Linked DNA regions of Homo sapiens. The protein of the gene in region 1 purifies or fractionates together with the protein of each later gene. This does not show direct contact. Each region holds a gene or a part of one and is shown on either strand. Other genes may lie near its edges.

Region 1 (3,449 bases):
TCATGTCCTAGAATGTCTCCTTCCCCTTTTGTTTGGGTTCAGGTCTCATCACACTTTGGGCACTTACTGTACAGGAGGGTAGTGCTCAGGACTTCACCAACAGCCCTGGGAAGGGAAGGGAGGTGCTGTCCTAACTCTGGTCTTACAAATGGACTCCAGCCCCTTTTCCAGATCTCCAGAGTCAGCCCTTAGTTCACAAGGGTGAACTTACCCTTCTCATTCACATGAAGACTTAGAATGCAATCAACAAACCCTTCAGGCGTGGCGTGTGGAGGCTGCTGAGTAATGGCAGAGTGGAGTAGTGCTCAGGCACCCCTCCCCCAATCCTCTATGTCCCCCACCCTTTGGAGTGGCGAGTTTCCATTTCTGCCCCATGAGACTGAGTCCAGCTCTCAGGCGCTCCATAAGTCCCTATTGAATGCATGGGTCCCATTGGAGCCATCCTCTGGACTCTCTCCTACCCTGGTAGCTCAGTGTGGCACCCTAGGCACCCAGGAGGTGATGGAATGAATTCACTCTCAGCTCTTAAATTCCATCCAGCGCTGGGATTTCACAGGCGGGCCCTGACCTTGCGGGCATATCAGACTGGGCGTGAGGGGATTGGAGAATTGCATGTTTTTTAAAAAGACTATTCAGTATTATGGAATAGTGTCTAGCACTTAGTAGGAGCTCAGTAGATTAAAAAAAAAATTATAGACAGGGTCTTGCTTTATCGCCTAGGCTTGTCTCAAACTCCTGGCTTCAAGCAATCCTGCCTCACTCGGCCTCCCAGAGTGATGGGATTACAAGCGTGAGCCACCACACCCAGCCTCAATAGATTTTTGTTTAATGGGTTACTGTTATGACCTTTTATTTGGAAAATGCTGCATCCCCCAGAAAAAAACAAATCAACATTATTGGTGTTTTTGGAACTATATAGCTTTTTGGTTGGAGCAGGGATTGTTATGAGGCATGAGTGAGGGGGCAGACTCCTCTGAGGCCTCTTTAATTTTTAAAACAGACTTATTTATTCTCTAAGGGCTTGTTGAGGATTTACTGGGCACCCAGCTCCATGTGCAAGACTTTTCCCAACACAGCCTTGGCCAGGCAGATGGTGTGTCAGGGCCACAGGTTTCCGTAGCCTCTTGGGTGATAGAAAGGGGCCCAGGCCCTGGGCTGGGGCTCAGAAGGGACTCAAAGGAGGCCCTTGCCCTTATGGGACTCAGCCTGATTGGAGAACAGACAAGGAGATTTGGGATTACAGCGCAGGAGGTGGGGTGGTGAGGAAAGCAGGCTGCTGGCCGGGCCCCAGGAGTGGCCTAACCAGCTTGGAGGTGGGGGTGGGGAAGCCTCTTAAGGCTGACTCTGGCTTTGGCCCCCAACAGAGTAAATCAAGGAATGACTCCAGGACTGATGGTAAGGACACCAGTCACGTCCTCCCTTGACTGAAGGCAGTAAGGGCAGTAGGTGAAATCAGAGGCTTTGGGGTCCTGCCAGGGGAACCTGAACATGCTACTTCTGGGCCTCAGTTTCACTGTCTCTGAAATGAGACCACAGTAGGATCAAGTGACAGTAGGATGAATCAGTAAAGGTGTTGAGTCATTGTTGACCACTTCGCACGTCCCTGCGGGATGTGGATGAGTACCCTACCTTCTGTCACTTATCAACCCCTATGAGTGGGGGGTGAATAGCCCCATTTTACAGGTGGGAAAATGGAGGCTCAGAGAAGCCAGACAACTTGCTCAGAGTTGCACAGTGGGAAGCAGCAGAGCTCCGTCAGGTCCCGGCCTTTGGACCCTGGCTGTGTGTTTGACGGAGGCCTGGCTTTCCTGGGATCATGGGATTCTTTCAGGGTTTGGGGTATGCGGGGAGGGATTCCCATCACTGCCAGCCGTTGTCCCACGGCTCACTCGGCCTTTCTGGCGTTCTCTCCCCAGGCGAGAAGCCCTTCTCCTGTCCCCACTGCAGCCGTGCCTTCGCTGACCGCTCCAACCTGCGGGCCCACCTCCAGACCCACTCAGATGTCAAGAAGTACCAGTGCCAGGCGTGTGCTCGGACCTTCTCCCGAATGTCCCTGCTCCACAAGCACCAAGAGTCCGGCTGCTCAGGATGTCCCCGCTGACCCTCGAGGCTCCCTCTTCCTCTCCATACCTGCCCCTGCCTGACAGCCTTCCCCAGCTCCAGCAGGAAGGACCCCACATCCTTCTCACTGCCATGGAATTCCCTCCTGAGTGCCCCACTTCTGGCCACATCAGCCCCACAGGACTTTGATGAAGACCATTTTCTGGTTCTGTGTCCTCTGCCTGGGCTCTGGAAGAGGCCTTCCCATGGCCATTTCTGTGGAGGGAGGGCAGCTGGCCCCCAGCCCTGGGGGATTCCTGAGCTGGCCTGTCTGCGTGGGTTTTTGTATCCAGAGCTGTTTGGATACAGCTGCTTTGAGCTACAGGACAAAGGCTGACAGACTCACTGGGAAGCTCCCACCCCACTCAGGGGACCCCACTCCCCTCACACACACCCCCCCACAAGGAACCCTCAGGCCACCCTCCACGAGGTGTGACTAACTATGCAATAATCCACCCCCAGGTGCAGCCCCAGGGCCTGCGGAGGCGGTGGCAGACTAGAGTCTGAGATGCCCCGAGCCCAGGCAGCTATTTCAGCCTCCTGTTTGGTGGGGTGGCACCTGTTTCCCGGGCAATTTAACAATGTCTGAAAAGGGACTGTGAGTAATGGCTGTCACTTGTCGGGGGCCCAAGTGGGGTGCTCTGGTCTGACCGATGTGTCTCCCAGAACTATTCTGGGGGCCCGACAGGTGGGCCTGGGAGGAAGATGTTTACATTTTTAAAGGTACACTGGTATTTATATTTCAAACATTTTGTATCAAGGAAACGTTTTGTATAGTTATATGTACAGTTTATTGATATTCAATAAAGCAGTTAATTTATATATTAAAAAGTCTTTGGTGTCATAGAGGAGTGGGTATTTTGAAAGGTCTTTGGTAAGGGAGGAGGGGACAGGAATTCCTGAAGCTTAGATATTTCTGACACAGCCTTAAATCTTGTCCTTGGAAACATCATAGGGCTTTGGAGTCCTGGGTGTCACTGTCAGGGACCTTATGAGACTGGGTTTTCCCGTTGGCCTGGGTGTCCTGTCTGCTGCTGTTTGGGTGAGCCAGCGGCATCCATACGAGCTCTTCACTATACACTGTGGCTTTTTACTTTCTCGTTCTTGAATTTTGAAGTTGATCTGGCCCACGGAGTGCAAAGCTGGCTTCCTGGGTCTTATCAACTAGACAGGCTGCAAAGCTCTGCCCCAGCACTGCAGGTCTTTTGGGGTGGGATTGTCCGCTTCCCCCAGATGCGAGTGGAATGCGACCAAGGAGACAGAGGATGTCCTTCCTGTTTCCAAGGGCTCCAGGCCCCCTTGGGCCTCCTTGTCAGTCCCACACCTCCGTCTTGCTGCTGGGTACCAAA
Region 2 (7,042 bases), on another chromosome or scaffold:
CACTGTGTTATTGAGTGGTGAATATAAAAGCTTCCTACTTATGTAGGCTCACATACATACAATGTCTCACTGACTACTTCTAAATTATCATTAGTATTTTCCAGAGAAAAGGAAGATTAAAAATTAAGTTATATTTATTTTGTTCTGAGTGCTGTTTTGGGGATGATTTCTTCTAAGTTTCCCACTCACTTTTCAAAACCTTTTGGGAAACTAATGCCCAAGAATACAGCTAATAAGTGACAAAGCTAGAAATGAGGTCAAGCCACAAAAACCATGCTTTTCCCATTAAACCATTCTGAAGCAAGCATAAGAAAAAACTGTCTTGAGTCTGTTTTCTTTTATTTTTAGAGACAGGATCTCTCTGGACTTGAACTGCTGGGCTCAAGCAATCCTCCCACCTCAGCCTCCCAAGTAGCTGGGACTACAGTGATTCTCTTTTCTAATATTATTTACTACATTTAACAACCATGCAACAGGAATCTTAACCAAGTCTCCAACTTGTTCATCCAATGTAATCCCAGGGTTTTAGTAGTATTGATAAAGTCTGATGACATCTTATTTTTGATGATGTGCTGGCATATAAATATTTATCAGTGAGCACTCACCATTCCCTAACGATCGAGTCTGTTCACAACTTCTCGAACTGTAGCTATGAAGTTTTCATTGTCTTGGGGATTAGCTAAAATAATACTGTGCAGTCTGTTCATATATGAGTCAATGGTGTCCACTGTAGGTGTCTCTCCACTTCCTGAAGTGAGATAAGAAGAAAGTAAGAAAATCCTCCCTATTCAGTTGTACCATAAAACACAATTTCAAAGAAACAGTGATTCTAATGTGGTCTGCTCCACAGACATGCTTTTAATTTTAGAGGAGAGACTTTTAGATCTCAAAGAAATGAAATTAGTCCACATACTCTAAATAAACAGATGGGCTATATAATTGCTGTATAGTATATATGAGCAGCTGCATGTAACAGAAGGTTAGACTCGCTCAGCTTTCTGCTATGACTATCTTCAAAATGAAAGAGTATATAAGAAATACCAGTGTTCATTCTCCCTTCCTTCCCGTTAAAACAAAAACAACTAAAAAGCAAACAAACATACATAAGAAGAAACACTCTCAAGATTTACTACTCAGTTTCCAGTGTTCTGAATAGCAAATTAAGCTTAAAAGAGGGGAAAATAGATATTAAAATATAAATGGACAAAAATTTGAATGACCAGAGAGCCTGAAACATTGGACGATTTTAGCCAATACTGACATTCTATTATATCCAGAGAAGAAAAAATGTAGTTTAATTAATTTTCCTCTGGAGGAGATTTCAATCTCTCCACACCAGTACTAACATAAACAGCACCCCACTCCACACAACACACACACCCCTGTCACTGACAGTTCTCAGGCAGGAGGACTTACCAGGCAAGGGCATGCTGGCAAAGCTGCTGGTCAGCACCTGCCGCAGGGTCTCCAGGTGCTGCTGTAAGACTGTGTTGCGGCTCCGCTCCTGGATCACATCCACCTCCAGCTTCTCCACTGCTGTGCGCATGCTCTCCACGTGCTTTTGCAGGGCTGCATTCCTCTCCTCAAACTCCATGTTGGATTTGCGAAGCTGGCGGAGCTCTGCTTCCCGAGCTGAGGACATACATCCCACAGAACACATGCAGCACTAGAAGGAGTCTCTGAGGAGTCCCAATGACTCTTACAGGGAAGTTCTGCTTAGCTGCCTCTAATTTAGCTACCCCACCTCATCTCCCTATTCTCATTATGGCATTCCAGATAGCAATTTCAGCAATGAAACGCCTGACTCCCCAGAGCTATTTTAATTCTTAAAGCTAGTCACATTCCATACATAAGATTGCAACAAACAGTTTCAATTCCCAGTATTTTTTTGTTTGTTAGTTTTTGCTTTTTAAATTGTACAATCAGAAGCCTGAGGGGTTTTGCAGGGGGATCCTGGGAGACTGGCCAAGCACAGCTGTAGGTACCCATCTTTACCACAATGGGATCAGACTTGCTCTTACTTATTTTATATTTTGGACTCCCATGTAAGTTTTTATTTGTGCAAGGGGTTCCAGGCTAAGAGTTTGAAGACAAGTGAATTTGTGATTTGCATTTATTTCCTTTCATCCAGAGACCAAAGAAGCTTTGACAACAATGCCCTAGCTTTCCTTCACTGGTCTTTGAGTAGTCCTAAGGAGGGATAACACTACCATTGCTTTTGAGCAATGAATTTCTTCTGAGAACTAAGTCCCCTGTCAAAAATCTGAGAAACACAAAAAGAAACTTCAGTAATCACCTTTGCTATGGTTCAAGAATTCCTCTGTAAATATAGGGATGTCAAAAACAGACCGTTCCTTTACCTCTGTTTCTTTCTGTGAATCAAGAGGAACAAAACAGTTAATTCTTAATAGAAGATAAATTAAATAATAGTGCCTGAAGACAATGATCATGTCTTCTTTAAAGAAAGAATAGGGTGAGCAGGAATCAGTCCAGGTGAGTCTGTGAGGGAAATGTATTCATCTTTTCATTGGAATCCAACTTTCACAGAGCTTAAGCAGGTAAAGTATTCACTTCTCTCAGGTATACAACTACTGTGCAATTAGAAACCTTAAAACAAAGTTACGTAAATTTCCCTAATGGAGAATTTGAAGCCATTTCTTAGCCTTGTGTTTTGAATAGTCAACAGTATACAGTTGTGAAAGTGATTGCAGTGGGAATTGAGAAAGAGTAGTTTTTTTTCAGTCACTTTTGTTGGTTATGCATGTAAAATGCTCCCTGAGATAAGATTATGCAATATAAATTTGCAGAGTGGACAATAAGAATTTTAAGCAGAAATGTAACTGCTATGAGCAATAATTATGATATTCCATTGGTACTTCTATTTACTTAAGAGAGGCAGCCTATCTTTGGGGTCTTTTAGATTTTCTTTAGACACAGGAAAAATAAACAAACAAACACATGAGACCGAGAAATCAGAAATAACCAGGCTCTAAAAATTAGAAAGCAAACGATTATGTGAGATACAAAAGAATAACAAAGCCTAAAATTAATTCACCAATAAGCCATTAAAAATAAAAAAGCCTCACAAGATCATTGCAAAATATATTCCACAATGATCTTTAAGAATAAAGTCAATAACTCAAGATGCTTTGGCTGTCGTTTCTAAAATGAATTTGAAGTTGAAAGCATTGTGAATATTAATTTTAAGTGTGTTGGCATAATGTTCAAAATTTTCCATAACAAAGGTGGTAAAATGGCAGGAAGTGAGAAATGAAGAAACTGCTAGTGAAATCTTAAGATCCCAGGACCTTTATAACATGAAAAACATGCAAACATAATACCTAGATTTCATTCCTATAAACAATTGTTTAAAGCTAGACAGAATGTATCTTTCCTACTCTTGTCACCACTAGCTTTTTTTTTTTTTTTTTTTTTTTTTTCTGAGAGGGAGTCCCTCTCTGTTGCCCAGGGTGGAGTACAGTGGCACGATCTCAGCTCACTGCAACCTCTGTCTCCCAGGTTCAAGCAATTCTCCTGCCTCAGCCTCCCAAGTCACTGGGATTACAGGTGCCCACCACCATGCCTGGCTAATTTTCTGTATTTTTTTAGTAGAGACGGGGTTTCGCCATGTTGGCCAGGCTGGTCTTGAACTCCTGACCTCAGGTGATCCACCTGCCTTGGCCTCCCAAAGTGCTGGGATTACAGGCTTGAGCCACCGTGCCCAGCCTCCACTAGTTTTTTAAATCTTTGAACACAAAAATGACTTGGTGCCCAGTAGAAAAGCTAAGCAGTTCACAGCTTAAGAGGGAAATCTGACACCCGAGCTCCTGTATTCATAACGGTGGCCGCCTAGTAAGGGGGCTGGGCTGTGTGAACCACCTGCCAATGGCAGCTGAGCAAGAAAGACACTGAAAAGCTATGTAATTTCAGAGCACTTAATTTCTACTTGTATTTTTCTTCCTAACAAAAGAAAGCAAAGTTTCCCAGAATAATTTGAAAATGAACAACAAAATTATCAATCGAAAGTCCCAAGTTTCAACATGCAAAGCTCTACCTCGAGCCAGTTCCTAGGGGATTTCAATGGAAACTAATGTATGAACAAGAAAGGCTGGTTCCAGAAGGAATCTTAGCCATATTTCGCAGTGGCTTTCTCTCAAATTTGCTGGCTTCCCATATGCTTTAACTGTTACTGGGCTGCTGCAGGAAAACAAAACTTAATGACACACAATCCCAACATGCACAAGGCATAACAGATATAAACATAAGTCCACAGATGACAGCATAAAGACTTAGGACATTATCATCCTATCTTATTCAATCTCCAACTTAACTGCAGTTACATGAGATCAGTTACCTAAGCTATACGTCTCAATATCTGCCAGTTAGATGGGTAAAGTGGAGACGCTTGGCTCCCATTACCATGGTACAAAGATCCCTCTCCTCCAAAGTCTTGACTCTCCTCAGACTGGTAATCTTTTCTCTTCTTTGCCAGAGCAGTCCAAATCAAGCTAATTATGTAAGGGCAGAGGACAGCACCACATAGGTGCATTAACACACTGCCCCTTGGTACAGATTCTCAGAGCACAAAATAAGAAACATTAAAGCAATTCAATGAAACTGTTCAGTCTCTGAAAGGTAACAGAGAAATTCTACTTAATGGAAGAGTGGTAATAAAAACCATCAGCGCTCTTCCATTACTGAGCACATTTCACGGCATGGAGAGGATCCTTCTGGGGGCTTGGGTGTACTTAAGCTGCTCCAAGGATAGCTCAAAGGATTAAAATCATAAGGATCTGATTACCCTTTCACTGAAAGGGTCTAATTTGTTCAAGCTGAGTGTCATTCTGTCATTTCTCATAAATTAAAGGAGAAACAAAATTATTGTTTCTATCTTAGTTTTCACATGAGATATAGACACTTTCTTGAGAGTAATACTCGCTAACTCTTGGGTCTAGTGGGCTGGCTTTCGATTTGAGAGGAGCAAGAATATTCTTCACTTTGGTTTCCATTCTATATATTGAGTGGAGGTTAAGAGAAAAGAGGCCCTTTTGAACTGAACCTATTTTGCTGTGATCTAGGCTCAGGGCCAGAATTTCAAAGAGTGTGATATGTGCTTCTCTCAAGAGACTTTTACTTTGGGAAATGCTCTTAACATTGTGTACCAGCCTGAAGTGCCCCACTGCTATGCAGAATGGCTTTCAGGTCAGCATTTCTTTAGCTCTAATATGCCCTCTCCAGTACCTGCCTTGGTAACAATGACTTAGGGATCCAAGTTTCATTTAGGAATACAATAGGTTTCTTTACTATACACAAACCAAATAGTTTACTTAACTGGCAACACATTTTGCTGACACCTTGGGCAACGAGGCCCATTTTTACTTTCAACGCTGTAATTTATGCTATGTAGCATGGCACTGTGCTGTCAAGAATGTTAGACTATGACACAGAAGGCCTGGGTTTCTGTCACAATTCTGCCTCTAATTTAATTCAGTAAGTGATTCTGGGTAAATTCTTTCCATTCTATATACTGTCTTAGGCAAGTCACTTTCCTCACTGGCAAAATGAGGTGGTCAGTTGAGAGGATCACTGAGTCTCAGTGTTTTACTCCTCATAGGATAAGTAAAGGGAAATAAGTATGTATTTAGGATCTATGGTCTTTAGACACTGCAAGATATTTGCTCTTTTATTAAAAACTTACTCATACCTCTGCTCAAGCCATTTTACCCACCCTGAGATGCCCACAAAACCTAGGTCATTTTTAAGTCCTGATTCAATTACTCCTTTCCATGGGCTCCTTCTGCGGCTGCTTTTCACCCATAGTGCTATTTTTCTGAACTTCTATTATACTAAGAAGTTATATGTAAGAAAATTACTGGGTAACAGTGTTTAAAAACAGTTTTAAAACTTTCAAATCAGTTCTTTTATACTGCAATTGTTCTAAAATTATCTAATTTAGGAAACATATTATTCAGTGAAAAATAAAAATGGATGAAGTAAGGGACATTAATTGGGTCAACACGCTTACTAAAGGAGCTTTATCCTGCTGTGGCCATACCAACACATGGATTTACAGAACCTACTGTATAACCTTTTAAGAAACAACTGCTGGCTCTCCATCTACTCACTCCTTTTTTTTGTTTGGTTTAACATGTGTCTAATCCTGTAACAGGGAAATACAGAGACTCACTTCTTTTTGCAAATCACAGAAATTACAGAAATTCATATCACACTAATGTATCTGAATAAACACCTTCACTTCTCAAATAATCAGCAGCAGGTTCTATGATACAGACTAAATCTACATCTTTTCTGACTGCAACTATCAAGTTTACTGAAGACAAAAATGCTACATATAGTTTGGCCAGCAAAATTCATAGTGATGAAATGAGTCAGATGACTGACACCTATTCAGATGACTGACTAGAAAATGTGAGATCTAATGTTTCAGGTTACTGTCCAAATTCTCTTTGGTAACTGTTAAGGATAGAGAAGCTATAAAATAGAGAAAAAAAGAAGCACAGGAATTTCATGATATTGATAGCTGGGCACACAGGCAAAGAAAGAGAGAAGTAATTATACAAATGTCTGCTAATATGAAAAGTTTACAATATTATTATGATTTAAAATACAAAGAATACATACAAAGTTTCTCCAGCAAAACAACATAACATTTCATCCTAATTAGAGCATAGAATGTCATATATAATTACATTTATATAGGATTTATCTGAAGAATAAAATGTAAATATTTACTATGCTTCTCACTTTATAATTCATAGATGGTAATAACGTCTATTTGACCTGTGAATCTGAATCTTTTCTCTATGTTTTAAGGTAACCAACATTTCCTTGATTTAGTAAAAAACCAAACACATGTAAAAGAGTACATCAGAAAATTCTTTTTGTTCAAATTCTCAGTTATTTCAGGTCAACTTTGAATAGATTCCATAAAATAATCATTTGTGGAATACCTTCTCAAGGCAAAGGTATCATGATAGGTGGTATGGGGTTGGATATAAAGATGGAAACTAGACTGTGTATG
Region 3 (7,033 bases), on another chromosome or scaffold:
CAGCTCGATGGCCGCCCGGCGGCTCGGCTTCCTCGATGGCTCAAATTCCAGCCGTAGGTTGTGAATGTGGTCGAGGCAGGCGGACAGATAAGGTGGCAGCATGCCTTCCAGCTCACATTCGCAACTTGGGTTAGAGCCGTGCAGAAAAGGCCTCAGCTGAGTCCCTGCGACCAGCGGAGAAGCCTCTACCCACCCCTTAGCTGGGGTTCCAGCTGCCATCCCATTTCCTGCCTCCCTCCCCACGTCTCTGTTCAGACCACGACTGTTGCCCCAAAGGAGGGAACTCGCATCCTATCCTTTTAGAAGATTTCAGTGGCGTCTGCCACAGGATGAAACCTGGACATGGAGAGCCAATGATATTTTAGGAACTGGGCTTTCTCAGCTGTCTCTAAGGAGTCTTGGCATGGCCTCCGGACTGCTAGGTTCGAATTCTGCCTCTGCCATTCCCTAGCTGAGTGACCCGTGGGAAGTGATTAAGTCTCTTTGCCTCAGTTTCCTATCTGGGCAATGGAGGTAATGATAATACCTATCTACCACACAAGGTTTTCATAAGGATTAAATTAGTTAATATATGTAAGGCACTTAAAAACAATGGTTGGTATATACTAGGCAGTCAATACGTCAGCAATTATTATTATTATTTTGAGATAAACTGTTACTCTGTCGCCAAGCTGGAGTGCAGTGGTGCCATCTCGGCTCACTGCAACCTTTGCCTCCCGGGTTCAAGCGATTCTTGTGCCTCAGCCTCCCGAGTAGCTAGAATTATAGGCGCCCACCACCATGCCCGGCTAGTTTTTGTATTTTAGTAGAGACGGGGTTTCAGCATGGTGGCCAGGCTGGTCTCAAACTCCTGACCTCAGGTGATCCACCCGCCTCGGCCTGCCAAAGTGCTGGGATTACAGGCATGAGCCACCACGCCCGGCCAGCAATTATTTTTTAATATGGGGGAGTCAACCTGAATATCTACCTAGCCCACGACTCCACGGAGAAGGTGAGTGGGCGGTGGGGAGAGGAGTGTGGAGGAGCAGGCTCACCTGATTTTTGTGTCGTGCCACACGGCGCTGCAGGTAGCAGCGGCGGCCCAGGCCCTGCAGACCCTGGCGGCGGCAGCACGGTCTCTCAGGGACAGGTGGCGGAAGATGAGTGCCAGCACCTCCTCTGGCAGTCCCTCTCCAGGCTCGGCCATGGCCCAGATCCGGCTGGGGTGGGAGGATCCGCCACTCCCAATAGCTCCGGCCTGGAGAGAGACGGACGTCTCTGAGGTCGGGAAGGCGCAAAGTGTTGCAGGAAGACCGAGCTTAGGTGTACAAATGCTTGTGGCCTGAGGAACTGAGGGCCTCTCAGACAGCGTGGGGCATCAGATAACCCCGAAACTTGTTCACAAAGCAGATTTCACCGCCTCACCTACTAAATCAGGCTCTCCGGAAAGGGTAAGGCCCAGGAATCTGCATTTCAACAAGCCCCTGTGACTCCACAGGTTCCACGTTGAGAACTCCCCTCCCACTTTTTTTTTTTTTTTTCTTTTTTTTTGAGACAGGGTCTCGCTCTTTACCCAGGCTGGAGTGCAGTGGCGCAATCACAACTCACTGCACCCTCAGTCTCCCGGGCTCAAGCAATCCTCCCACCTCAGCCTCCCGAGTAGCTGGGACTACAGGGGCACGCCACCACGCCTGGCTAATTTTTGTAATTTTGTTGCAGAGACGAGGTCTCGCTTTGTTGCCCAGACTGACCTCGAACTCCTAGGCTCAAGCGATCGGCCCGCCTGGGCCTCCCAAAGTGCTGGGATTACGGGCATGAGCCACCGCGCCCGGCCTGAGAAACCCCATCTTAACCCCGCCGGTTAGTAGAAAGTGACTACAGGGTTAATAAGGCGGGAGCGTTAATGTAGGCTTTTCTTTGTCAGGGACCATGAGCCAATCAGGAAGCGAGGCGTGGGCGGGGCAAAGCTGGATCCACCCCTGGAGGGGAGGCTCCTTCCCCGCCTCCGCCTCGCCGGGGAGATGTCCCGGGTGCTTCCTAAGACAGCCCCACTGGATGAAAAAAAACTTGGGTCTCTGGGACCTGACGGTTCTGGGGCCTGAGGGGCTCAAGATTTAAGTTCCGACCCCTGAGCAGCCCTGGCTCCCGCTGAGCAATTTGGGTTCGGCTGGAACTCCGCAGACCCACCCTGGAGCGCAGCCTTTAGAGGGGGATGGGTTACTGGAAAGTGTGCGTCCTCTTTGAAGTTGCCAATCCTGTTTGTTTTTGTTTTGTTTTGTTTTGAGACGGAATCTAGCTGTGTCGCCCAGGCTGGAGTGCAGTGGCGAGATCTCGGCTCACTGCAAACTCCGCCTCGCGGGTTCAAGCGATTCTTCTGCCTCAGCCTCCCGAGTAGCTGGGACTCCAGGCGCGCGCCACCTCGCCGGGCTAATTTTTGTATTTTTAGTAGAGACGGGGTTTCACCATATTGGCCAGGCTGGTCTCAAACTCCTGACCTCAGGTGATCCACCTGCCTCGGCCTTCCAAAGTGCTGGGATTACAGGCGTGAGCCACCGCGCCCGGCCGCCAATCTTGTTTTAAGGTTCTTAAAGGTTTGTGTACACAAGGCTTCACACTACTCGCCAGTTAATGTTCCCATATCTTCCGGGCTAACAGTTTCTCCCGGAATTTGTGCCACGTGTTTCCTGGGGCTTCAGATACGTTCGGCCGGGCTTGTACCTGGGACCCATGGGCACCCCGTTTTGAGTGCCCACTGGTAGCAGCGATCTTGAAGCCGGATCCCCAGGGGTACCAGAAAATTCTGGTCTCCAGGGGGCGCCCCCTTGATTTACCGAAGTCTGGCAGCTGTAGCTCTTACGAGCCCCCCGCCTCGTAAGAATCGCAAACCCCCAAAGTCGGGTCTTCCTGCCGTCTAACCTTGGGCGCTGGTGTCTTACCTGCTCGGCGGACCAGATGGGCTTTGCCCGGGGCAGGGGACTGGCAGCAGAGGACAGCGGACGGGAAGCAGCCACCGGGAGCCCGCGGGGCGGGACGCGCGGGCGGACGGGGCGGCTCGGGCTAGGGCACCGCCCCAGCGCCTCCGCGCACACCCGGAAGCGGCGGAGTAGAGCGGAGCCTGGCGGGCGTGGGAACCCAGGCCCCGCCGAGGCGGCCAGGTTAGTGCAGCAGGTGGGTGGGTGGGCTCCCCGGTGCGGGCGGGAGAGGAGGTGGATCTTGGCTCCGAAGCGTGGGCGCGGCGCAGATGTCACCGGCGGCTGCTCCAGCCAGCTGGTGGCGGCGGTCTACTGAGCTGTTCGAACACCGTGGGAGGCGGGGGACGGTACGGAATTTGGCCCCCGCAGGCTCCTCGTCCCTGCCAGCACTTTCGAGGTGCAGTAGGGCCCTGCAGGAGAGAGGGTGGGGGAGAAGGGGCTGGTTCTGAATACTTTCCTTGAGCGGAGACCCCCTTGCCCACCCCAGCCGATCGCACGTGCGAAACCCCAGCTTGAGGGTGGGCTAGTGGGAGCCTGGGAAGCTCCCCTCAAGCGCTCGGGAGCTGCGTAGCTGAGTAGGGGGTGTGCCCGGCGGGTCGCAAGGAGTCACAGGCTTTCAGTTCTGGGCCACGCCCACAGGCTGTCTCTGTCCACCCAGCCAGAGGTGGGGCTGCCCCCGGGACTGTTAGGTGTTCAGGGGGCACCGTGCGTGGCTCGTCCCTGGAAACAGGCGCAGAAGTTGTTAGGTCGGTACCTAAGCGCCCCACAGTCTCCGGCCACCAAACTTTCTCAGGACCCAGCCTGGAAGCCTCAGCCCCGCCCAAAAAGGGACGACTCCTGGTGGGTGGGGCGCGGGGCTTCCCAAGGAGGGGCTTCCGTGAAAGAACACGTAAGAAGAGCTGCCAGTCGGCGGATGCGAAACTAGGGCCCTGGCCTCTTTACCCTGTTAACTCGACCTCCAGCCTGGTTCACCTTCCCCATCTTCTAGTACTAGTGAGTGTGAGAAAGCATCCCCAGTCTCCAGGTTCCCAGTACTCCCCACCTCCCCCTCGACCCCCACAGACCTGATGGGCAGACAATGGTCCTGTTCGGTCCCCACTTCCACCCCTTGGGGTGGGACCATAACCAAGTCAAGCACTCTCAAGTCAAGGGGCCAGAAAGACATGAAAGAGGGAATGTTTCCAGGGGAAGTTCCCACTCTCTCCTACTCCCCAGGCCACTTTCGAAGGACTCCCCCCTTATCTCACCTCCGTGGCTGGCTCCCTATTATGGACCCACTTGTCACCTGCAGAGTTTCCTGTTTTTTCTTGTTTTGCTTTTAAAGAAAACAAATTTATTTTGCTCTTTTAATACAAAGAAAATATGTCTACTTCACATAAAGCAGAAAATATTGCTAAATACAAAGAAAATAAAAATCACCCACAATCCTTCCCCACCCCCACCTACCTTCCTTCATCCTGCCCAGAGATAAACAAAATGCAAACTTCCTGTTACTATCCAGACTGTGGTTTGGCGTAAGTACACAAGTATTAATGTTTTCTATGAAAAGATTAGAAGGCTGGGTGTGGTGCCTCACACCTGTAACCCAGCACTTTGGGAAGCTGAGGTGGGCAGATCGCTTGAGCCCAGGAGTTTGAGACCAGCCTGGGCAACATGGTGAAACTCCATCTCTACTAAAAATACAAAAACTAGCCAGGCATGGCGGCGTGTGCCTAAAGTCCCAGCTACTTGAAAGGTTGAGGTGAGAGGGTTGCTTGAGCTGGGAAGGTCAAGGCTGCAGTGAGCTGCGATAGTGCCACTGCACTCCAGCCTGGGTGACAGAGCAAGACCCTGTCTCAAAAACAAGACAATTGAAAAAACAAAGGTCGAGAGTAGTGCCTTACTCCTGTAATCGCAGCACTTTGGGAGGCCAGGGCAGGAGGACAGCTTCCTGTTCCTCATGTAAACAGATGGCAGCTGGGCCACCCCATCTGTCCTGCCCCATAGCTAACACTCAACACTCCTCTTAGCCCACCATATATAAACCCTGATGAGAGTACAGGAGTGTGACTGATGGGGCAGGAGGTAGGGCCTTGAGCCCATGATTATAGGAAAAGGGTGGGTAGGAAAAGGGTGAGGTGGGGAGAAAGAGGAGGCAGTTTTCTACTTGCTGTCTCACGGGGTAGTAACTGGGAGACCATTGAGCTGTAGGTCAGTGCAGTGGTTCCTTGGCTGGGAATTTTGCCCCCGCTGGTCCAGAGCTAGGTTTTTGTCAGAAGATGGAGGAAGGAGATACTATACTAGCACCAAGGGGCCCTGGCTTTTTCTGGACAGGGAAGGAATAGAGCAATTTGTGTTGGAAATGACTGGAGCCGAACTCCAAGGGCTTTATAACAAAAAGGAATTATTTAGCTCACATAACTGAAAAGTCCAGTGTGCAATGGCTTCAGGGACGGCTGGATCCAGGGGCCTAGTATGCTTAGGAATGCACTTCTCCATCTCTTGACTCTTTCTTTCTGTGTCAGCTTCATTCCCAGCCAGGCTCTTCCCAAGCAGTGCTAAAGGAGAGCTACCTTTTCCTTCCAGTTCAGCCCCAAGGGAAGGGAAAGTAGTGCCTCTTTCCTATTGGCTCAACCAGAGTCGCAGCGTTGATTCTCATGGGTCCAACTTAAGTCCTATACCCCGCCCTGAACTAATCACTGCAGAAATGTGAATGGAATATGCAGATTGGCCAGGTCTGGTACACAAGCCCGACCTGGAACTAGGGAGTGGGACACAGGCACATGGATTGAGAAGAGGGAGGAGGGAAGTCCCCAAAGGTAAGTCAGGCTTGGGGAGAGAATCTGGGTAGATGCAAACTACAGGTGCCCTTCGAAGTGAAGACAGGAGGTTTAGTCTTAGGCTGAGGTCCTCCAGAAATGCTGGGCTCAAGTCTACTCAGAAGGCAAGGCCAGGATATGGGTCTGGTTGGCTTTGGGGCATGGGCACCATCCAGAATGAAGATGTCTCTTGTCCGCATTGGTAAGAGAGACACACAGGCCTGAGAAGGAAGCAGAGAAGCCCCATTGCAGGATCTGCCTCTGCTCCCCCTCCACTGTGACCTTGGGCTCTTTCTCCAAGAAGGCAGTGGAGGGACAGTCCTCACTGCAAGCCTGGGGCGGGTGGGACTCTGTACAGAGCCAGGAGCTCAAGGGGCTTCCTGTGAGATGGTGAACTCCTGTCCCAAGTATGCCAACCAGTGGTGGGGACAACTGAACCATGTGGGACTTGAGGCTACTGTGGTGGGGACAGCTGAACCACGTGGGGCTGGGTAGTTGTCTCCAGGGTGGAGGGAGGGGGGATGAACTGGATACCTGACTGTCTGCATCTCCAGGAGGTGAGATGGCAGCTGGGCAAAATGGGCACGAAGAGTGGGTGGGCAGCGCATACCTGTTTGTGGAGTCCTCGCTGGACAAGGTGGTCCTGTCGGATGCCTACGCGCACCCCCAGCAGAAGGTGGCAGTGTACAGGGCTCTGCAGGCTGCCTTGGCAGGTGCGTGGATGGGCGGGCATGTGGAGAGGAAGGGGTGGCCTGGAGCATTTTGTGGGTGGGCCTGGGTTTAGCCACCTTTAAGAAGAAGATTTGGGGTGGGAGGAGCAAGACGGAGGACCCCTGGCTGTGCAGACTCTCTTCTTTGCTTGTGGCATGACCTTGAGGATAGGCGTGTGTTCTCGAGTCTGTGTATGATTTACCAATTTGTGCACTAACGTCCTTTGCTCCATCCCCGCCCCCCTCCACCAGCCGGCTCACTCCTTTCTACTAATTGTGGATGTCTCTCTCCTCTTTTCCTCTCTTACTGCAGCACTCCTTGCTCAAGACCCCTCCCCAGTACCTACCCTTCCAGGCCCCCCTTTCCCATCTCAGGGCAGAGGCCACAGGAGGCTGAAGCGGGTTGGGGGATCTGTTCGTGGCCTCAGAGCGGCGAGAGCCCCTCTTCTTCCCGAGCAGTGGGAGTCGCGCTTGGTGGAGGCCGAAGACCTGAGACCTCTCGCCCTCCTCTGCCCTGCTGGCCGCCTACCCAGACGGCTTGTTTGCCCAGGGCACACGCCCCCTTTTCTGTGCT
Region 4 (4,601 bases), on another chromosome or scaffold:
TTTTTTTTTTTGAGATGGAGTCTTGCTCTGTCACCCAGGCTGGAGTGCAGTGGTGCAATCTCGGCTCACTGCAACCTCCGCCTCCCGGGTTCAAGCAATTCTCCCTGCCTCGGCCTCCCAAGTAGCTGGGATTACAGGCACGTGCTACAACCCCTGGCTAATTTTTATATTTTTAGTAGAGACGGGGTTTCACCACGTTGGCCAGGCTGGTCTCAAACTCCTGACCTCAAACGATCCACTCGCCTCAGCCTCCCAAAGTGCTGGGATTACAGGCGTGAGCCACCACACCCGGCCAGAAATGCTTTCAAGCTTCCTAAATCAATAAGAAATAAGGCCAGGCACAGTGGCTCATGCCTGTAATCCCAACACTTTTGGACGTCGAGGTGGGTGGATCACTTGAGCCCAGGAGTTTGAGAACAGCCTGGGCAACATAGGGAGATCCCATCTCTAAAAAAAATAAAATGTAGCCAGGTGCGATGGTGGATGCCTGTGAGCCCAGCTACTCGGGAGGCTAAGGCAGGAGGATCACTTGAGCCTGGGAAGTCGGTGGTGCAGTAAGCTATGATCACACCACTGCACTCAACCATGATTGCACCACCACACTCCAGCCTGGGCAACAGAGTGAGAACCTGTCTCAAAAAAACAAACAAACCAATAAGGCCGGGCGCAGTGGCTCACACCTGTAATTGCAGCTCTTTGAGAAGCCAAAGTGGGCAGATTTGCTTGAGCCCAGGAGTTTGAGACCAGCCTGGGCAACATGGCGAAACCCTGTCTCTACAAAAAATACAAAATTTAGCCGGGCGTGCTGGCATGCACCTGTAATCCCAGCTACTCAGGAGGCTGAGGCAGGAGGATCACTTGAAGCTGGGAGGTTGAGGCTACAGTAAGCCATGATCGTGCCACTGCATTCCAGCCCGGGCAACAGAGTGAGACCTTATCTCAAAAAAAAAAAGAAAGAAAAAAACAAAAAAAATGCAACAACAAGAAGAGAGGTCTTTTCTGAGCAGAGTGGACACCTCAGGAGACACCCATCACACTCCAAGTGATGGAGGTGTGTTCATGTTAACAGTGGAAGAGGGGTGGGGGTGCTGCACCTCCAGACTCCGGCCCAGATCCTCTTACTGCCTTCTCTTTCTTCCCCTTCCCCATACCCAGAGAAGATCTTCTCTGAGGTGACGCCCAAGTGTGAAGACTGTCAGAGCCTGGTGAAGCCTGGTGAGCCTCTGGCCAGGGACCTGCCCAGGTGGATTTGGGTGGGGGTCCCCTCCTCCCCCTGACCCCCTCCCAAAGGCCACACCCGCACACATCTGGCCACCTCTGTCTCTCTGAACAGTGCCCCAGATCCATCCTGGGGAGAATGGGGTCTGTGCCCCTGGCCGGTCCCCACTGCTCCCAACTCCCACTGTGGCCTCCGGGTCTGCCATTGCTCCCACCTGTCCTCTCTGCCTCCCCATGTCACTGTCTCTGTCCGTCCATCTGTCTCCACCTCAGATATCGTCTTTTTTGGTGAGAGCCTCCCAGCGCGTTTCTTCTCCTGTATGCAGTCAGTAAGTGGCCCCCCAGCCTCCCCGCATCCCCAACCGCCGCCTCCACCTGTGCTGGGCCCCATGGGGGCAGCCTGGGCCCTGCCTCAGGAAAGGTCACCTCCCCAGCTATGGGGGGCGGCAGGGAGGTTTGCTGCTGGGGGCGGGGGAGGGAGCGGTGGCGCAGCCTGGGCGGAGGCTCCCAAGCTCACGCCCCTCCCCGCAGGACTTCCTGAAGGTGGACCTCCTCCTGGTCATGGGTACCTCCTTGCAGGTGCAGCCCTTTGCCTCCCTCATCAGCAAGTAGGTTGGGGGCTGTGGCTGGGAGGACGGCTGGGCACCCAGGGCCAGGACAGACCCTGACCCCTTAGCTCCCCCTCCCCACAGGGCACCCCTCTCCACCCCTCGCCTGCTCATCAACAAGGAGAAAGCTGGCCAGGTAAGAGCCCTTCTTCAAGCCCCCGTCGTCACAGGCTCCCCCTTCCCTCTCACCCTTTTCCTCAGAGGGAACCCCCACTGTGGAACCCCAGCACTTTGCATTCCTCAGCTCAGAACCTGGGGCTCTAGAATCCAGAGGGGTCGGGTTCCAGGCCTCTGGGACATTCACTGCCCTTTTGAGCAAGTGATAGAATTCCAACTCAAACCAGCTGAAGCCAGATAGGAAGGCCGGGCTTCCAGGGACTGAGGAGGTGGGAGGGGGTGCAGGGGTCAGGAGAGACAGTGCGGGGGGCGGGGTTGGGTCCACGCTCTGGGTCTCTCAGGTCTGTTTTTCCTGGGCAGCCTCACTCTAGGGCAGGTGCTCCCTCCTAGGTGTTCCCCTCAGGGGAAGTAGGCAGGGTCACCGGGCAAGCAGCGCACGCTGTGGGCAGACACTGTCCCAAGTCTTAGCCTGCGTGAACTCACTGGCGCCACAACCCCATCGCGGTTTTGTGATCACCCCTATTCTACAGGAAACTAAGACACAGAGAGGACAAGTCACTTGACCAAAGTCACTGAGCTGGCTGGGCGCAATGGCTCACGCCTGTAATTCCAGCACTTTGGGAGGCCGAGGCGGGTGGATCACCTGAGGTCAGGAGTTCGAGACCAGCCTGACCAACATGGTGAAACCCCGTCTCTACTAATAATACAAAATTAGCCGGGCATGGTGCTGGGCACCTGTCATCCAGGCTACTCGGGAGGTTGAGGCGGGAGAATCACTTGAACCCAGGAGGTGGAGGTTGCAGTGAGCCGAGATCACATCATTGCACTCCAGCCTGGGCAACAAGAGTGAAACTTTGTCTCAAAAAAAACCAAAAAAACAACAACAAAAAAAAAACAAAGTCACAGAGCTAGGATACAAACCCAGGCCACCTGGCTCCAGGGTCTGTGCTCTTAGCTCTCCCTTCCCTGCTCCTGCCCCTGACCCACCCCCTCCCTGACAGTCGGACCCTTTCCTGGGGATGATTATGGGCCTCGGAGGAGGCATGGACTTTGACTCCAAGAAGGCCTACAGGTGAGGCCCCGCCGGGGGTTGGGGCAGCCTGGAAGGGACAGGGTGAGGTGGGAGCGGGGGCACGAAGGCAGATGAGAGGAGCAGGCAGGGGCGAGCCCGCCTGGGAACTCTGATCTCCTGCTGCACCGCAGGGACGTGGCCTGGCTGGGTGAATGCGACCAGGGCTGCCTGGCCCTTGCTGAGCTCCTTGGATGGAAGGTGAGGAGCTGAGCAACCCCAGCCTGTCCTGAGCCCCATCCCTGGACCCTCTCCCCACCCCATGGGTCCTCTGACCCCATGATGCACAGTGACCTTTGACTTCTGTGACCTTTGCTCCTGCAGAAGGAGCTGGAGGACCTTGTCCGGAGGGAGCACGCCAGCATAGATGCCCAGTCGGGGGCGGGGGTCCCCAACCCCAGCACTTCAGCTTCCCCCAAGAAGTCCCCGCCACCTGCCAAGGACGAGGCCAGGACAACAGAGAGGGAGAAACCCCAGTGACAGCTGCATCTCCCAGGCGGGATGCCGAGCTCCTCAGGGACAGCTGAGCCCCAACCGGGCCTGGCCCCCTCTTAACCAGCAGTTCTTGTCTGGGGAGCTCAGAACATCCCCCAATCTCTTACAGCTCCCTCCCCAAAACTGGGGTCCCAGCAACCCTGGCCCCCAACCCCAGCAAATCTCTAACACCTCCTAGAGGCCAAGGCTTAAACAGGCATCTCTACCAGCCCCACTGTCTCTAACCACTCCTGGGCTAAGGAGTAACCTCCCTCATCTCTAACTGCCCCCACGGGGCCAGGGCTACCCCAGAACTTTTAACTCTTCCAGGACAGGGAGCTTCGGGCCCCCACTCTGTCTCCTGCCCCCGGGGGCCTGTGGCTAAGTAAACCATACCTAACCTACCCCAGTGTGGGTGTGGGCCTCTGAATATAACCCACACCCAGCGTAGGGGGAGTCTGAGCCGGGAGGGCTCCCGAGTCTCTGCCTTCAGCTCCCAAAGTGGGTGGTGGGCCCCCTTCACGTGGGACCCACTTCCCATGCTGGATGGGCAGAAGACATTGCTTATTGGAGACAAATTAAAAACAAAAACAACTAACAATCCGGTCTGGCCTCCTGTTTCTTTCTGTGGGCACCCAGGGAAATCTCTGAAGGGAGGGGGTTAGATCTTGGGCCACTAAGGAACCAGAAAGTCTCCGGGATCCAGAGTGAGGGGTAACAAGAGGGTCCTCACGGGGGCCCTCGTGGCTCTGACCCCTGGACTCCCAGCCTGCCAGTGTCCCTTCCTCTAAGCCCCGTCACTAAAGGCCTGAGGCCCCAGAAAGAGGGAGGAAAGTTGACTTCAGATACCCCAGCCCCGCCTCTTCCCCCTGCCTGCTCAGCTTCCTCTCTCCACTTCCTGCTACTGCAGGCCTCTCCTCCGAGAACAGGTAGGGCCCCCAGGAACCGAGCATCTGGCATCTTCAGCCCCTGCTGCCTCCCTTTGGTATGAGGCAGCTGCCCTGACCCACCCCTGCCACGCACTGCCCACAGCCTCCTCTCCTGCCACGGTACACAAGCAGGCATCTGCTTCCCTCTCCCCTCCCCTCCCCTCCCTTCCTTCCTGCTCTTGCCTG

What was found.
Region 2: the proteins of SNAI1 (region 1) and HMG20A purify together in Homo sapiens (affinity purification with mass spectrometry; 4 studies listed by BioGRID and IntAct, with this or other methods). This does not show direct contact.
Region 3: the proteins of SNAI1 (region 1) and FBXL8 purify together in Homo sapiens (affinity purification with mass spectrometry; 3 studies listed by BioGRID and IntAct, with this or other methods). This does not show direct contact.
Region 4: the proteins of SNAI1 (region 1) and SIRT2 purify together in Homo sapiens (affinity purification with mass spectrometry; 3 studies listed by BioGRID and IntAct, with this or other methods). This does not show direct contact.

The regions. Positions count from the first base shown.
Region 1 is NC_000020.11:49,985,956-49,989,404, forward strand, and holds the end of SNAI1 (zinc finger protein SNAI1), read left to right. Parts: intron 1-1,916; coding exon 1,917-2,101; 3' UTR 2,102-2,931; downstream 2,932-3,449. UniProt on the Homo sapiens protein: Involved in induction of the epithelial to mesenchymal transition (EMT), formation and maintenance of embryonic mesoderm, growth arrest, survival and cell migration.
Region 2 is NC_000015.10:77,472,885-77,479,926, reverse strand, and holds part of HMG20A (high mobility group protein 20A), read right to left. Parts: intron 2,373-7,042; coding exon 2,297-2,372; intron 1,633-2,296; coding exon 1,417-1,632; intron 749-1,416; coding exon 612-748; 3' UTR 606-611; exon of another isoform or gene 1-605. UniProt on the Homo sapiens protein: Plays a role in neuronal differentiation as chromatin-associated protein. Acts as inhibitor of HMG20B. Overcomes the repressive effects of the neuronal silencer REST and induces the activation of neuronal-specific genes.
Region 3 is NC_000016.10:67,155,939-67,162,971, reverse strand, and holds the start of FBXL8 (F-box/LRR-repeat protein 8), read right to left. Parts: upstream 3,016-7,033; 5' UTR 2,916-3,015; intron 1,238-2,915; 5' UTR 1,187-1,237; coding exon 1,035-1,186; intron 125-1,034; coding exon 1-124. Other genes in the region: TRADD (tumor necrosis factor receptor type 1-associated DEATH domain protein), read left to right, coding at 6,312-6,462. UniProt on the Homo sapiens protein: Substrate-recognition component of the SCF (SKP1-CUL1-F-box protein)-type E3 ubiquitin ligase complex.
Region 4 is NC_000019.10:38,878,046-38,882,646, reverse strand, and holds the end of SIRT2 (NAD-dependent protein deacetylase sirtuin-2), read left to right. Parts: intron 1-1,155; coding exon 1,156-1,215; intron 1,216-1,491; coding exon 1,492-1,547; intron 1,548-1,749; coding exon 1,750-1,826; intron 1,827-1,910; coding exon 1,911-1,962; intron 1,963-2,473; coding exon of another isoform or gene 2,474-2,506; exon of another isoform or gene 2,507-2,944; coding exon 2,945-3,015; intron 3,016-3,146; coding exon 3,147-3,213; intron 3,214-3,336; coding exon 3,337-3,492; 3' UTR 3,493-4,087; downstream 4,088-4,601. UniProt on the Homo sapiens protein: NAD-dependent protein deacetylase, which deacetylates internal lysines on histone and alpha-tubulin as well as many other proteins such as key transcription factors.